Linked DNA regions of Homo sapiens: regions 2 and 3 are each linked to region 1. Evidence: fine-mapped expression QTL. A gene starts in region 1. Each other region holds a variant in brackets. All regions are shown on one strand. Distances are between the middles of the regions.

Region 1 (5,218 bases):
GGGTGGAGAATGGCCTGGTAGTGTTAGGAAGGAGCCAGGAGGGCCCCAACCCCACCTACAGACCCAGAGGTAGAGGGATCCTGCGAAAAGATATCTCTACACCCGAAAGCTCCAGGGGAAGCCAGGTTTTCATGAGAGTGCAGCTAGAAGTATGCTTGGAGAAGAAGAGTCTAATGACAGGGCGGTTGGTGCTGGTGGTGGTTTCTGGAACACAGGATGGGTGGGAGATAGGGTCAGAATCAAGGATGTGCAGAGTCCTGTGGGGCTTAGATTGTGGCTGACCTGGGATAAAGGCCACCTGTGTTCTGTGTCCATTGTCTTCCATCTCAGTAGCTTGCAATACAGTCTGTCTGTCCCTTGCTTGAAACACTTTCTTTTTTTTCTTTTTCTGTTTTTTTTTTTTGAAATGGAGTCTCACTCTGTTGCCCAGGCTGGAGTGCAGTGGCGTGATCTTGGCTCACTGCAAGCTCCGCCTCCTGGATTCACGCCATTCTCCTGCCTCAGCCTCCCAAGTAGCTGGGACCACGGCGCCTGTCACCACGCCCGGCTAATTTTTTTTTTTCTTTTTGTATTTTTAGTAGAGACGGGGTTTCACCATGTTAGCCAGGATGGACTCGATCTCCTGACCTCGTGATCCGTCCACCTCGGCCTCCCAAAGTGCTGGGATTAGAGGTGCGAGCCACCGCGCCCGGTGAAACACCTTCTTTCTGACTTCTGGCATGGCCGACTGCCATTCGGGAGGGCTGTCCACAATCCTTGCCATCCCATGGCACCCTTCTCTCTTGTTCGGGAATTCTGCCTGTGCATAGCCTTGGCAGGAAAGTGTCTGGAGCATGGCCAGTTAGACCCACCTCCGGAAACATCGGAATCCTAAGGGAGTGAGCTGGGCCTGGGGCTTCAGGGCCTCTCCCAGCCTGGCCCGGGGGCCCCTCCAGCCTGTGAGCCCCTTTCTCTTTGCTGGGGTGCCAGACTCCTCCTCCCTGACCTGTTACCTTCTACCAACTAGGGATGGCAACATTTTAGTGCTTGACTCCCAGGCTCATGCACGGAAGTACTTGGTCCATTGGGGATCAGTGGCACCTCAGACTCTGCATGTGATGACCCTCCCACCCCCAAACCATGTGTATCTAGGTCCGTCCTCCCCATCAGAGAAGGCCACCCTCTTCACCGGCTGTCCTAGAAAAACTCGCAGCACTGGGGCCCGCACACCCACTCCGTGGTGAGCTGGTCCTTGTCGAGCGACGCCTTCCCTCTCCAGGACTACCCAACCGGTCTCTCCCGCCTTAGGTCCCCTGGGTATTTGAGTCCCACCCCCCGCGGCTCACTCTCTACAAAGGGACCCTTTAAAAAAGATAAATGGGAGTGTGTTCCTCCTGGTTTCAAGTGATCCAAGTCCTCGCCCCACCTGGCCCCCGACCCTTCTGCTGCGGACCCCTGCCCAAGGGCCTCCGCCCAAGTGTGGCTCCCTTGGGCCCACACCCCATCAGGCCAGCAAGGAGGGGGATAGCGGGGGGCGGGGCAGGTGCTGGGACTCCGGGCAGGTGCGGGGAAGGCAGGGGGCGGGGGGGGAAGGGGTTGGGCGATGCAGGTGTTGGGGGCCGGGACAGTTGCGGGGGTAGGCAGGTACCGGGAAGGCGGGAGGGCGGGCAGGTTCCGGAGGGGCGCGACAGGTGCTGGGACGCGAGGTAGGTGCGGAGAAGGTTGGGGGTGCGGGGCAGGAGCCGGGGGTGGGGGTTGAGGCGGGGCAGGTCCTACGCGGCGGAGCATCCCCGCCCAGGACGCCCGCGCGGCCCCGTGACGTTTTTCCGCGACTCGGGGTGAGGGAGACCCCTGGGCGGGACGGGCGGAGGGTGGGGGCGGAGGAGTGGGTTCTGCCCGCAGCAGAGTGCAGCGGGGAGACCTTCCCAGTCTCAGAGCTCGCCTCGGCCCCGCCCCCAGCCCTGCCCCCCGACGGAGACGCGGCGGTGACTCCCTCCGTGGGGGACGCACGGGACGCTTGCGCCTCAAGTCCCTTAAGCGGCGCCCGACGCAGCGCAGCACCTACCCAGCCGGGACAGGGCCAGGGCCGGGGATGGATGAGCGCGGCCGGGGGGCGGGGCAGGGGTGGGGCGGCCGAGGCAGGGGCGGAGCTGGGAAGGCGAGGCAGGGGCGAAGGGCGGGGGCGGGGCGAGGAGGCTGTCAGAGGGGCGGGGAATAACGAGGGGGCGGGGCCACACGGACGGATGGGGCGGGGAATAGGGGCTGGGCCGGGCCTCCGAGCGGCAGTCCGCGGGCTACGGGGCGGCCGGGGGGCTGGGCGGGGCCGTGGGGCGGGGCAGGGCCTGGGAGGGGCCGGATGGGGGTGGAGGCCGGGATTGGGACGGATGGGGGCGGGGCATAGGAGGGGGCGGGGCCGGGCCTCGGAGCCGGGACTCGCGGGCGGCGGGCGGGGGCGTCGCTGCGCGGCTGGCCGGTGAGGCCGCGGCATGGGGCGAGTGCAGCTCTTCGAGATCAGCCTGAGCCACGGCCGCGTCGTCTACAGCCCCGGGGAGCCGTTGGCTGGGACCGTGCGCGTGCGCCTGGGGGCACCGCTGCCGTTCCGAGGTGGGCGCGGGTCCTCGGGGAGGGCCTTTGGCCGCACCTGCGCGGGGCCAGGGCTCCCGGAAGCGGCTGCCGTCGCCTGGCCCCGGGTTGGGCCCGCGGAGTCGCTGTCTTCGCCGCCCGGGACTGCTGGGAAGCGGGCTCGGCGGCGCCGGGGAGGTCCGGGCGGCGCCGCCCTTCCGCGTCTGCCCTTCCTGCCCTCTCGCCGAGGGGCGGCGGGGTCCCGGCGGGGCCTGAAGCGGGTCCACTGTGGAGGACGCCCTGAGCGCGGGCGCACGCAGGCCTGCGACCCTCCCCGTCCGCGCTCGCACCTGCTGGGCTCCTTCCCGCACCCTGGCTCCCGGCGCAGGCGCTCCCGCTGCAGAGCCGCTCCTGGCGCGGGCGTGCGGTCCCGGCGGGGTGCAGACACCTGCTGCGGCTCCCTGCGCCCCCTGCCACCCGCCAGCAGGCCTCGCCGGCCCCCCGCCGAGGTGGACGCCTGGGCCTCGGGGACTGGGTATCGGGTTGCTGCAGTGGCCGCTGGCAGGGCGCCCTGGAGGTGAGGGCCGGCCCGCGAGGTGAGGCTGCCTCTGCCCGGCCCTTGGCTGTGAGTGCCGCGTCCCTGCCGGGGACTTCTCTACCTTGGCCTCCTGTGGGAACCACCTGGGCTGCTTGGCCTGTGCCACAGCCCCTGGACTTGCCGCTGGACCTTGACCGCTGGGCCCGCGCGTGGGTAACAGCACCGATTTTGTGCCTGCTGAGAACCCACAGTCTCTGTTCTGTCCTCTCAGCCTCCTGGGACAGGTGATGGTGCTGTGGCCCTGACCCTGCACCGCCTGAGGCTGTGGGGCCTCGGAAGAAGCCGGGTGGTAGGTGCTTCTGTCAGGCTCCTGGCCCCACTGGGCCTCCTGGGATGACCCCACAGCCTCCCTTCCTCTGTCCCAACCTTGAGTTTGGGGTCTGGGTGGGGGCAGGTGTGGCCGTGGCAGGGCAGAGATAGCACACACATCTCTTGGGTACAGGTGTGGTGTGTGGTGAGGCCGGCTGGATCCTGGTTGAGGGCTGTGCAGGACCCTGTCGTCCTTCCCCTGGCGTGGCCTGGGGTGAGCAGGCCATTGCTTACCACAGGGAAGGGACGGCCCCGCGGTGCGTGACTGGCCTGGGTGTGCAGGCTCCCCTGGCCTCCGGGTGGACGTGGTGGGTGGGTTGAATGCTCACGCCTGTAATCCCAGCACTTTGGGCAGCTGGCCCAAGAGCCGAGGGAGCACTGGCTGATGGTCCTACCTCACAGAGGCTGGTCTGAATGAGGGAGAAAAAGGAGGGTCGTGAGCTAAGGAGTAGGAGATGGGCCCTGATGGGCCAGAGAGCACATGATTCAGGCTGCTGCAAGTGAGGTGGGAGGGTGTACCGGGGCCCCCGGGGGTTTCCCCCAGCCCTGCCTGGGATGGGAACAGAAGGACCATGGTTTCTTTTCCTCATTCAGAGGATGCTTGTCAATCCTGCTAGGAGCCAGTAGGGAGGCCCTCAGCCCCCAGGAGGACAGCAGCCCTGCCTGGGCCCCAGAGCTTGCTCACTTACTCTGCCGATGAGTGTCGGTGACAGTCAGCACCCAGCCGTGAGGACACCGGCTGTCTAAAGGGCTGACGCGGAGGGAGGCCTGGGAGGGAGCAGTTTTCTGGAGCTCAGGCTGGCCCAGTCCAGGGCTGGGGTTCAGGCAGGACCACTTCTTGTTCTGCTGTTACTGGGATGGGCGACCAGGGCCGACAGTGGTTCTCGGAGCACTCATGGTGGGCCCGATGCAATTCTCTCCACGTGCCACGGGCCAGCCTCAGTTAACCCTCAGCGCCCTGGCAAGTGGCACGGTTGTTACTCTCATGATACAGATTTGGAAACAGGACTGGGGGAGTGGCTTACAGGTCACAGCTTCTGTGGCAGGCGTGAGTCCTTTGGGATGAGGATGAGGAGTGGGTGGGTCTTCATGGTCCAAGTGCAGGTGGTGCAAGGGAGGGGCTGCTGAACAGGTGGGAGCCCCAGCTGGAGAAGAAAGTTCCAGTGGTCACTTGAGAACGCAGCCCAGTCATGATCTTCCTTAGAGTCAGAGAGGCCTGCAGCCTCCAGCAGCTTGTCCTTGCTTGTGCATCTGAACACAGGAAACATTTTTTATTTTTATTTTTTTAATTTATTTTTTCGAGACGGAGTCTCCCTCTGTCGCCCAGGCTGGAGTGTGCCGGCGCGATCTCGGCTCACTGCAAGCTCCGCCTCCCCGGTTCACGCCATTCTCCTGCCTCAGCCTCCTTAAGAGCTGGGACTACAGGCGCCCGCCACCACACCCGGCTAATTTGTGTATTTTTAGTAGAGACGGGGTTTCACCGTGTTAGCCAGGAGGGTCTGGATCTCCTGACCTCGTGATCCGCCCGCCTCGGCCTCCCAAAGTGCTGGGATTACAGGCGTGAGCCACCGTGCCTGGCCAGGAAACATTTTTTAAACCTGCATGGGGGAGGAGGGACAGGGCTTGCAGGGCCCCTGCAAAGAGGTGCAACGTTCAAGTCCAGAAGGCGGAAGAAGTCACACTCTGACTAGGGGACTGCCACTGAGCCACTCAGTCCTGCAGCCAAGCCCTGCCTGGTGGCTTTCCTGTTGCGAAAGGCTCGGTTCCCTT
Region 2 (5,218 bases), 35 kb after region 1:
CTGTTTATTCCTGAGTTATCTTTGTTGTTGTGGGTCTTTCTGAGAATTTGTTCATGGCATCCAGGTTATCTAGTTTCCGGTATGCAGTTGCTCGTATGTTCCCTGTGACCATTTTTATTTCTGTCAGGGCTTGTGTTCCCCTTTGACGCTAATAAATTTTGGTAAGTGGGGTCATTTTTCTCTTTTTCTTGGTCATTCTAGCTAAAGTTTTGTGAATTATGTTGAATTTTTCAGAGAAGCAACTTTTTTTTTTTTTTAAGATGGAGTCTCGCCCTTTTGCCCAGGCTGGAGTGCAGTGGTGCGATCTCGGCTCACTGCAAGCTCCGCCTCCTGGGTTCAAGCAATTCTCCTGCCTCTGCCTCCTGAATAGTTGGGAATATAGGCGTGCGCCACCATGCCCAGCTAATTTTTTGCATTTTTAGGAGACGGAGTTTCACCATGTTGGCTGTGCTGGTCTCGCGCTCCTGACCTCAGGTGATCCACCCACCTCAGCCTCCCAAGTAGCTGAGATTACAGGCACCCGCCACCACGCCCGGCTAATTTTTGTATTTTTAGTAGAGATGATGTCTCACCATGTTGGCCGAGGTGGTCTCAAACTCCTGACTTCAAATGATCCACCCGCCTTGGCCTCCCAAAGTGTTGGGATTGCAGGCATGAGCCACTGCACCCGGCCTAGTTTTTTACTAGTTTCTTAATGCTTTTAGCTATGTTATAGAATAAATTGCATTCCCCTAAAAAATATGTTGAAGTCCTAAACCCCATACTTCAGAATTTGACCTTATTTGGAAATAGGGTCATTGCAGATTAGTTAAGATGAAATCATAGTTGAGTAGGGTAGGCCTCTAATCCAGTATGACTTACGTGTCCTCATAAAAAAAAAAGGATGCCTTGTGAACACAGACATGCACAGAAGGAAGACAGCATGCGGACACACAGGGAGAAGTGGCGCATGACTGGGGTGATGCTTCCATAAGCCAAGGAGTGTCAGGGACGGCCAGCAGACCCCAGAGCCTGGCCGAGGCAGGGGATGGCACTCCAAAGCCATTACAGACCACAAGGCCTACTGACACCTTCATTGTGGACTTCCAGCCTTCAGAACTTCGAGACCATACATTTCTATTGTTACATGTGTCCTAGGAAAAAACAGGCTGCTTCCTATAAATGTTGATATGTTGTATTTTCATTTTTATTCAGTTCAGAATATTTTCTATTTTCCCTTGTGACTTTAGAAGTGTGTCATTTAATTTCTAAATATTTAGGTATTTCCTGGATTTCTTTGTTTTGTTGATTTCTAATGTAATTCCTGTATGGTCAGAATTATACTTTGTATAGTTTCAGTGTGTTTAATTTGTTAGATTAAAAAAAAAATCCCGTATTATATTCTGTCCTGGGGAATGTTTCATCAGTGCTTGAAAATAATGTGCATTATGAATTTATTAGGTGGAATGTTCCCTATATGTCAGATTGAATTGGTTGATAGTATTAAGTCTTCCTTATTCTTTCTCATTTTCTTTCTAGTTCTATTAGTTATTGAGAGTAGAGTATGAGATCTACAGTACTGTCGAATTTTACATTTTCACTTTCAGTTCTGTTGGTTTTTGCCTCGTGTTTTGAGACTATGTTATCTTGCGTGTGTTTATAGTTGTTACATCTGCCTGGGTGTTTTGACACTTCTCTCATTATGAAATGTCCCTCTTTGTCTCTATAAATGTTTTTGTTTTAAAGTCTATTTTGTCTGATGTCAGTATAGCCACTTCAGTTTTTTTATGGTTTATTTTTGCATACTATATCTTTTTCTGGCCTTTTAATCTCTTTGTATCTTCAATCGAAGGGATGTCTCTTACAGTCCTTTCCATCTGAGATCGGATCTTGTAGATTCAGCAGTTGAATCATATATATGTATTTTTCTTACCTGATAGAAGAGATTTTATTTTTAAAGTGTCACCTTAGACTGCAAGGATGTCTGTTGTACCTCCCCATTAATCAGCCAGAGGAGGAGCTGTGATATCAGAATGCCCACTCAACCCACCAGACATTTGAGACCCACCCTTTGCTGGCCTTCTGTAACCTTATTTATTTAGAGACGGAGTCTCGCTCTTGTTGCCCAGGCTGGAGTGCAATGGCGCGATCTTGGCTCACCGTAACCTCTGCCTCCCGGGTTCGAGTGATTGTCCTGCCTCTGCCTCCCGAGTAGCTAGGATTACAGGCATGTGCCACTGTGCCCGGCTAAGTTTTATATTTTTAGTAGAGATGGGGTTTC[G/A]CTGTGTTGGCCAGGCTGTTCTTGAACTCCTGAACTCAGGTGATCCGCCTGCCTCGGCCTCCCAAAGTGCTGGGATTACGGGTGTGAGCCACCGTGCCTGGCCTGTAACCTTATTTTTTAAAGCTTTTAATTTTAATTTTTGTTTTGTTTTATTTTTGTGTGTTTTAGAGACCTGGTCTTGCTGTTACCCTGGCTGGAGTGCAGTGGCGTGATCATAGCTCACTGCAGCCTTGACCCTGGGCTCAAGCAGTCCTCCCACCTTGGCTTCCTGATCAGCTGGGACCACTGGCATCTGCCACTATGTCCAGCTAATTTTTAAATTTTTTGTAAAGATGGGGTCTTCCTATGTTGCTCAGGCTGGTTTTGAACTCCTGGCCTCAAGTGATCCTCCCATCTTGGTCTCCCAAAGTGCTAGGATTACAGGTGTGCACCCCTGTGCCTGGTCTGAAATTTTCTTTTTTTAATCAAGAGCAAGTAGATACATGTTTTCTCTGAGCCCAATATGCAGAGAAGGAAAAAATGCTAGAATTCTCTGCATTATAGGGGCCTGGCGCCCTTTAGCTTCCAACAGTGCAAAGGGGGCAGAAAGTTGTTCTTTTTTCCATAGAACATGGTGATGTTGATTCCATACAAGTTTGTTGAGATAGGAAGGGATAAAAATGAGTTTGAAACAGAAAGAGGTAGAGATTCTTTTCACATTTTATTCTCCTCAAGGTATTTCCCCCCCAGATAAGTTGAGATCCACGGTGTAGACAAAAGAGACCTCAAGAACTGGGTGAGCACAAGAGGGAAAAAGCAAGACTGCACCTTGCTCCCGGGAACTGGAGACAGCTTTAAAAAAGGAAGGTTCTAATCCATGTGTGTTCTATTAGTTATCTTCTCCTTATCCCGTTCCTCATCAGTGTCTTCCAGTTCCTCCTCCTCATCATCTTCGTCTTCTCCTTCTTTATCATCCATATTGGGAACCAAGGAGCACTGTGATGAATTTGGCCAAGTATGGTCTTTGCTGACCTCTCCTAACTCATCTGCACCTGCGTCAGAATGGCCAGTAAACCAGGTGAAGAACCTGTCTGGTTCCTCAGGATGCCTCTTCCTACTGGCTTTATTCTGCATTTGACTTGAAGAGTTTCCTTTCCAGATTTCCATTTGATTTCCGTGGACTTTGAAGATGGATCATGACTCTCATTCAGATGAAATTCTTTGAGAGAGCTTTATTTTTGAAGTAAGGATTTTCGTCAAAATAAAAACCTATTCTGTAACCTGATTTAATATCTTCAAATTCTGTCACTTCAGCACTGGTCAAACAATGCAGTGCCTCTTCATCCTCCTCCCAAGCAGTGCAGACGCTTGTGGATGGCTGACAAATGTTATTACCCAGAAATTGGGGATTTTGGGAATCAATTCTCATCTGCCCTGAAGAACGTGGTTGGCCGAATTTGTCTATGTTCGCTCTCCCAGTCCGCTTGCCGCTCACTTGCTAAGCCTGTTTCTGAAGCCTGTTTTGTGCTGTGCTTCCTCGTGGGCTTGGTTGCCGCTTGTTCTGTTCCTCTCTTCCTCTGGCCTCTGTCAGGGGCTGGCGCCATGTCTTCCTTTCAGGCAGGGGCAGAGACGGGTGTTTGGGGGTCATTCCGGGAGGAGAGTCTGGACCCAAGGGCCTCCTTGCTCATCAGGAAGAAGCTCATAGGACTAAGATCACATTTTTTTTTTTTTTGACATGGAGTCTCGCTCTGTCACCCAGGCTGGAGTACAGTGGCATGACCTTGGCTCATGGCAACCTCTGCCCCCATGCCCTCCAACTCCATGGTTCAAGCTGTTCTCCTGCCTCAGCCTCCTGAGTAGCTGGGACTACAGGCACCCACCACCATGCCTGGCTAATTTTTGTATTTTTAGTAGAGACGGAGTTTCGTCAAGTTGGCCAAGCTGGTCCTGAACTCCTGACCTCAGGTGATCCACCCGCCTCGGCCTCCCAAAGTGCTGGGATTACAGGTGTGAGCCACTGCGCCCGGCCCCAAATTTTTTAATCTATTCCCCCAGTCTCTACTTTTCATGTGGGACAGGTAATGCGTTTCATCTAATGTAATTACTGAAAGGTAGGGTTTATACTTGTCGATTTTGTATTTGCTTTCTGCGTCTTCTGTCTTTTTTGTTACTTTCTGCCTCAGTTAGTTTTTGTTCTTCATGGAGATGGAGTTTCACTATGTTGCCCAGGCTGGAGCGCAGTGAGTATTCATAGGCATGATCATAGTGCACCGTGGCCTTGAACTCCCGGGCTCACAGGATCCTCCCACCTCAGCCTCCTGAGTAGCTGGGACTGCAGGCGTACCACAACGCCTGACTCATTGCTTTCTTCTTTTGTGTTAGATATTTTCTAGTGTATACCATTTTAATTCCCTTGCTGTTTATTTGACTGTATTTTTTATTTGTTTTCTTGGTTGTCCTGGGGATTACAATTTAGTATATTAATTTTTGATAATGTAGTTTGTATTAATACTATATTACAATACTATATGAAATATTTATTTGGGCATAGCTTAATTTCTTTTGCCCTTCTTGTACTGTTATTGTCATACAAATTACATTACACTGTGTGCCCATCTACGCAGATTTATAGTTGCTGCTTTACGCAATTGTCTTTCAAATCATATAGGAGAAAAAACAAATTATAAATTAACAAATACATTTATACTGTCTTATGTAGCTGCTTTTATACTTTACCTGTGTAGCTGCTTTTACTGGCGCTCTTGATTGCATTCCCCTCCCCTCCCCTCTTGACAGGGTCTCGCTCTGTCACCCAGGTGGGAGTACAGTGGCACAATCATAGCACTGCAGCCTTGACCTCCTGGGCTAAAGAGATCCTCCTGCCTCAGCCTCCCGAGTAGTTGGGACTATGGGTGCGTGCCACTATTCCCTGCTGATTTTTAATTTTTTTTTTGTAGAGATGGGGTCTCACTGTGTTGC
Region 3 (5,218 bases), 24 kb after region 1:
GGATTATAGGCGTGCGCCACCACGCTCGGCTAATTTTTGTATTTTTGGTAGAGACAGGGTTTCACCATGTTGGCCAGGCTGGTCTCAAACTGCTGACCTCAGGTGACCCACCCCCCTTGCCTCCCAAAGTGCTAGGATTGTAGGCATGAACCACCATGCCTGGCCATTTTTTTTTTTTTTTTTTTTTTGAGATGGCATCTCTTTCTGTCACCCACGCTGGAGTGCAATGGCGTGATCTTGGCTCACTGCAACCTCCACCTCCCGGGTTCAAACGATTCTCTTACCTCAGCCTCCCAAGTAGCTGGGATTACAGGTGCGCACCACCACTCCGGGATAATTTTTTTGTATATTTAGTAGAAACGGGGTTTCACCATGTTGGTCAGGCTGGTCTCAAACCCCTGATCTCAGGTGATTTGCCCACCTCAGCCTCCCAAAATGCTGGGATGACAGGCGTGAGCCGCTGCGCCCGTGATTTGCCCACCTCAGCCTCCCAAAATGCTGGGATGACAGGCGTGAGCCGCCGCGCCCGGCCCTTTTGCAGAGGTTCTGTCTGCTGGTTTGGTTTTCTTGAAGGATCCCTCAATTTCTTGCCTTGCTGGTATAAGCTGGATTTTTTTTTTTTTTTGAGACAGAGTCTTGGTCTTGTCGCCCAGGCTGGAGTGCAGTGGTGTGATCTCGGCTCACTGCAACCTCTGCCTCCTGGGTTCAAGCAATTCTCCTGCCTCATTACCCCCCCACCCCCAAGTAGCTGGGATTATAGTTGTGCACCACCACGTGTGGCTACTTTTTGTATTTTTAGTAGAGAGGGAGTTTCGCCATGTTGGCCAGGCTGGTCTTGAACTTCTGACCTCAAGTGATCCACCCTCCTGGGTCTCCCAAAATAATGGGATTACAGGTGTGAGCCACCATGCCCGGCCATTTTTGGTGGACCTTTTTATGGGGCTAAACGTCTGGTGTCTTGTGGCTACAGAAGACCAGTACTTGCTTGAGGAGGAGACCTGAGAGGTCAGCTGTTCTCAGGTGGAGTTTTGCCCGCATTCCCCTTTGTAGTTGCAGGCATCACCCCCATTGTCCCCACCCTTCTGTGTTTTCTGGGGTCAGTCTGCCAGCTGCTCAGCTGCAACTCCTTTATTTAAGTTTCTCCTTCCTCTACTCTGTGGGATAGGTTAGCTCTCCTCTACCTCTCTGTCTTCCTATTTGTGTTCTATTTAGGGATTTCACATGTCTTGGGGTTTATGTGTCTCTTTCCTGCTTTTCTTGTCTTTGATTGATTTTTGCTAAGAGAAGAGAGGATCAGAATCAATTTTTCTTTTTTTAAAATTACTTAAACATTTAATTTTTAATTACACAATATAATTTATAAAACATTTTGTAGAGATGGAGTCTCACTGTGTTGCCCAGGCCGATCTCCAACTGGGCTCAGGCGATTCTCCCGCTTTGGCCTCTGAAAGTGTTAGGATCACAGGCGTGAACTGCTGTGGCTGGCCTGAGAAGCATTTTCCATAAATCTTGAGAAGCAGATTCTTCCGTAAACTAGAAGCACAGCTGTCCTATGAAAAGGGCTGCCTGTCTTCGGATCTTACTATGTCAGTTGTTGGTTGTGGTCGGAAGGTTCTGGAGTCATAGTAAGGGCCAGCAAGGGTGATGTTTGTGCCTCAGCTCTAATGTCGAAAAGAGCGTCTGTGGCTACCTTAGTTGCTGGAGATCCCACACGTGGCCAGAGCCAGAGGTGGGGCTAGAGCCCTGGTTTCCTTCTTCTGCTTCCTGTCATGTGCTGAAAGAGCTGTGTAGGTTTGACCACATTTTATTGAGTTTTTCTTTGAAAATAATTTGGCTTATAAGAATCATGTTTTGGATTCTTTAGGAACTTTATTTTTTTTTTCAATCATTTCATTGGATTAAGCATGGTTGATGGATTACTTTATCCTAAGGTAAGTGGGCAGTTTGATTTTAAGTTGCTCACTCAGCAAACCAGGTAGGGAATAGTTATTTGCTTTTGTATTTTTTTTTTTTTTTTGAGATGGAGTTTCGCTCTCGTTGCCCAGGCTGGAGTGCAGTGGTGCAATCTTGGCTCACTGGAACCTCCGCCTCCCAGGTTCAAGCGATTCTCCAGCCTCAGCCTCCCGAGTAGCTGGGATTACAGGCGCCCACCACCATGCCTGGCTAATTTTGTATTTTTAGTAGAGATGGGATTTCTCTATGTTCGTCAGGCTGGTCTCAAACTCGTGACCTCAGGTGATCTGCCTGCCTCGGCCTCCCAAAGTGTTGGGATTACCGGCGTGAGCCACCACACCTGGCCAGTTTTTTTGTTGTTGTTGTTAAATGGAGTCTCGCTCTGTTGCCCAGGCTGGAGTGCAGTGGCGTGATCTCGGCTCACTGCAAGCTCCGCCTCCTGGGTTCTCGCCATTCTTCTGCCTCAGTCTCCCAAGTAGCTGGGACTACAGGCGCCCACCACCATGCCTAGCTAATTTTTTGTATTTTTAGTAGAGACAGGGTTTCACTGTGTTAGCCAGGATGGTCTCGCTCTCCTGACCTCGTGATCTGCCCGCCTCTGCCTCCCAAAGTGCTGAGGTTACAGGCATGAGCCATCGCACCTGGTCCAGTTTTTTGTATTTTTAGTAGAAACGGGGTTTCACCATGTTAGCCAGGCTGGTCTCGAACTCCTGACCTCAGGTGATCCGCCCACCTCGGCCTCCCAAAGTGCTGGGATTATAGGCATGAGCCAC[C/T]GCACCCGGCTGAGAATAGTTATTAGAGCCCAGTTAATTTGGCCTATGGCAGGTATGATATAGAAAGCATTACTTCCAGGACTGAGAATTCTCCTTTCTTACTGTTTTGCTTCTCTTTAACTTTTAATATTTTCATGTATTAAAAAAAAATCTGATGATTTTGGATTTTGAAAAACAAAGCTAAAGTGGCTGCTATAACTCTTCAGAGGTAGCATTTCCTTTGAAATGGAGTCTCTTGGATAAGAGGCCACTTTCCCAGGAACATCACTGTGAGCTGCTGTTTCATTCTGGAAAAGCTTGTGGATTTCTTTCTGTATTCTAGTTGTAATAGGCTGGTTCTGATCACAGTATATTTAAGATGCTGTTTTGAGCACTTTCTGTTTATGCAGTGCAATTCTAGGTATTTGTAAGAGGACATACAAAGTTTTGAGATTGATCCCTGATGTTACAAAATTTAATAATAGAACAGAGCAAATATTACTGAGTAGGAAATGAGAGTCAGTTAAAAGTAAACAAGAAGAGGCTGCTGGATGGCCACAATTGCTGCGGCCACATGTGTGGGGAAAAGTTCCTTGAGGAAGATGAGTTAGTCTAGGTCTTTTTTTTCCTTTAACAGCTTCTTGTCCAACACATAGTCTAGGTCTTAAAGGATGTGAGACATGAATTGGCATGAGAAGGTGGACAAAGTGTACATTAACAAAAATTAGGCATTTTAGCAAATTTAGAAATCAAACCTAGAAACCTCAGGATGCCATATATTTGTCATCTGTTTTTTTCCTGATCCTCGTGAGTGTATGTGTTTTTATTTAAAATTGGTGGTAATCAGTGATTATGTGCCGTTGTACTTCCTCTGTCCCGTATTGTCTGACGTGCATTCGTATCTTCAGTGTTTTTGGTAGCTGCATGGTGTGTGACATAGAAAAGTCCCAGTTTCCTCGACTGTGATTTGGGTGAGGTCTGTATCCTTTGGTGCACAGTGGAATTACAAGGTCAGAAGGGGATAGTGGCATGAGATGAAGCTGGAGAGGCAGGGCAAGGTTATCCAGGGCCTTGTTACCATGGTAACAAGTTGGGAAGTTTCATAACCACTGTAGACAGTCCTTGAAGATTTTAGGCATGGAATGATACTTTAAAAAGATGACCCTGGCTGCTGTGTGGAGAGCGGAAGTAGGGGGCCAGTGAGCAGGCTTGGCTTGAGTGGTATGGGTTAGTCATGATATAGGTGTTTAGATTTAATTTTTTGAGCATATAGGACAGTTACATGGTTCAAAATTGAAAAAGTATGGCCGTGTGTGGTGGCTTATGCCTGTAATCCCACCACTTTGGGAGGCCGAGGCGGGTGGATTGATCACCTGACGTCAGAAGTTCAAGAGCAGCCTGGCCAACATTGGTGGAACCCTGTCTCTAATAAAAATATAAAAAAATTAGCCGGGCGTGATGGCGGGCGCCTGTAATCCCAGCTACTCGGGAGGCTGAGGCAGGAGAATCGCTTGAACCCGGGAGGTGGAGGTTGCAGTGACCTGAGATCGTGCCATTGGACTCCAGCCTGGGTAACAAGAGTGAACCTCTGTCTTGGAAAAAAAATAAAAATAAAAATAAAATAAAATTGAAAAAGTACCTCCCTAGCCACTAGTTCTTCTCTTGGCAGGTCACCAGTATTTAATTACTGTGCATATTTCATGATGTTTATGAATATACAGTCATGTGGCACTTAAGGACATTTTGGTCCGTGGCAGACCACATACATGAAGGTGGTCCCCTAAGATTAGAATGAAGGTCAGGCGTGGTGGCTCACACCTGTAATCCCAGCACTTTGAGAGGCTGAGGCAGGAGGATCACTTGAGCCCAGGAGTTCAAGATCAGCCTGGACAACATAATGAGACCCTGTCTCTACAAAAAATAATGAAAAATTAGTTGGGCATTGTGGTGTGTGCCTGTAGACCCAGCTACTCCGGGAGGCTGAGGTGGGGAGAGTTGTTTGACCAGGAGGTCAAGGCTGCAGTGAACCGTGTTGGTGCCACTGCACTTCAGTCTGGGCAGCAGAGTGAGACCCTGTCTCAAAAAAAGAAAAAAAAGATTATAATAGAGGCTAGAAATTCTTACTGCCTAATCACGTCGTGGGCATTGCTTTGTAGTAGGGTAGTGCACTGCCTTTTCTGTGTTCAGACGCACATGTGTCATTGTGTTGCACTTACCTGCAGTAACGCGCTGTGCAGGTTTATAGCCTGGAAGCCATGGGCTACACCACACAGCCTAGATGTGTAATAGGTTTGCAGAAGTGCACTCTTTGACGTTTGCACAGTGATGAAATCACCTGATGACGCATATCTCCGAATGTATCCCCCTCATTCAGCGTCACTTAGATGCAGTAGATGTTACTGTCCTGTCGAGGGGTTCGATGACTTTACCATGTAGCTGGTATATGTTAGAGCTGGCTCTGCCCTGGGCTAGGATGGTGCAGTAGAATGGTGTTCGTTCCAGGGTTGGGGGAG

Evidence for each region. PIP is the estimated chance that this variant, and not a neighbour inherited with it, causes the effect.
Region 2: its variant is the best candidate, but not a certain one, in a credible set for the expression of ARRDC1 in whole blood (INTERVAL, PIP 0.83).
Region 3: its variant is the best candidate, but not a certain one, in a credible set for the expression of ARRDC1 in whole blood (GTEx, PIP 0.52).

What each region holds. Positions count from the first base shown.
Region 1 is chr9:137,603,253-137,608,470 of GRCh38, forward strand. ARRDC1 (arrestin domain containing 1) reads left to right here and starts at 2,434. Exons shown (of 8, transcript NM_152285.4): 1 at 2,434-2,583. The coding sequence starts at 2,466. LOC124902318 (a long non-coding RNA gene) reads right to left here and starts at 2,086. Exons shown (of 3, transcript XR_007061885.1): 1 at 2,045-2,086. RefSeq lists silencers at 1,696-2,825, 2,836-3,105.
Region 2 is chr9:137,637,872-137,643,089 of GRCh38, forward strand. All of the region lies in intron 1 of EHMT1 (euchromatic histone lysine methyltransferase 1), which reads left to right. It also overlaps the pseudogene SETP5. Among named protein-coding and RNA genes, the nearest start is that of EHMT1, 21 kb to the left of the region's middle. The variant G/A (reference allele first, on the strand shown) is at 2,261.
Region 3 is chr9:137,627,093-137,632,310 of GRCh38, forward strand. The region is part of intron 1 of EHMT1 (euchromatic histone lysine methyltransferase 1); the gene reads left to right. Among named protein-coding and RNA genes, the nearest start is that of EHMT1, 11 kb to the left of the region's middle. RefSeq lists an enhancer at 1,471-1,530. The variant C/T (reference allele first, on the strand shown) is at 2,727.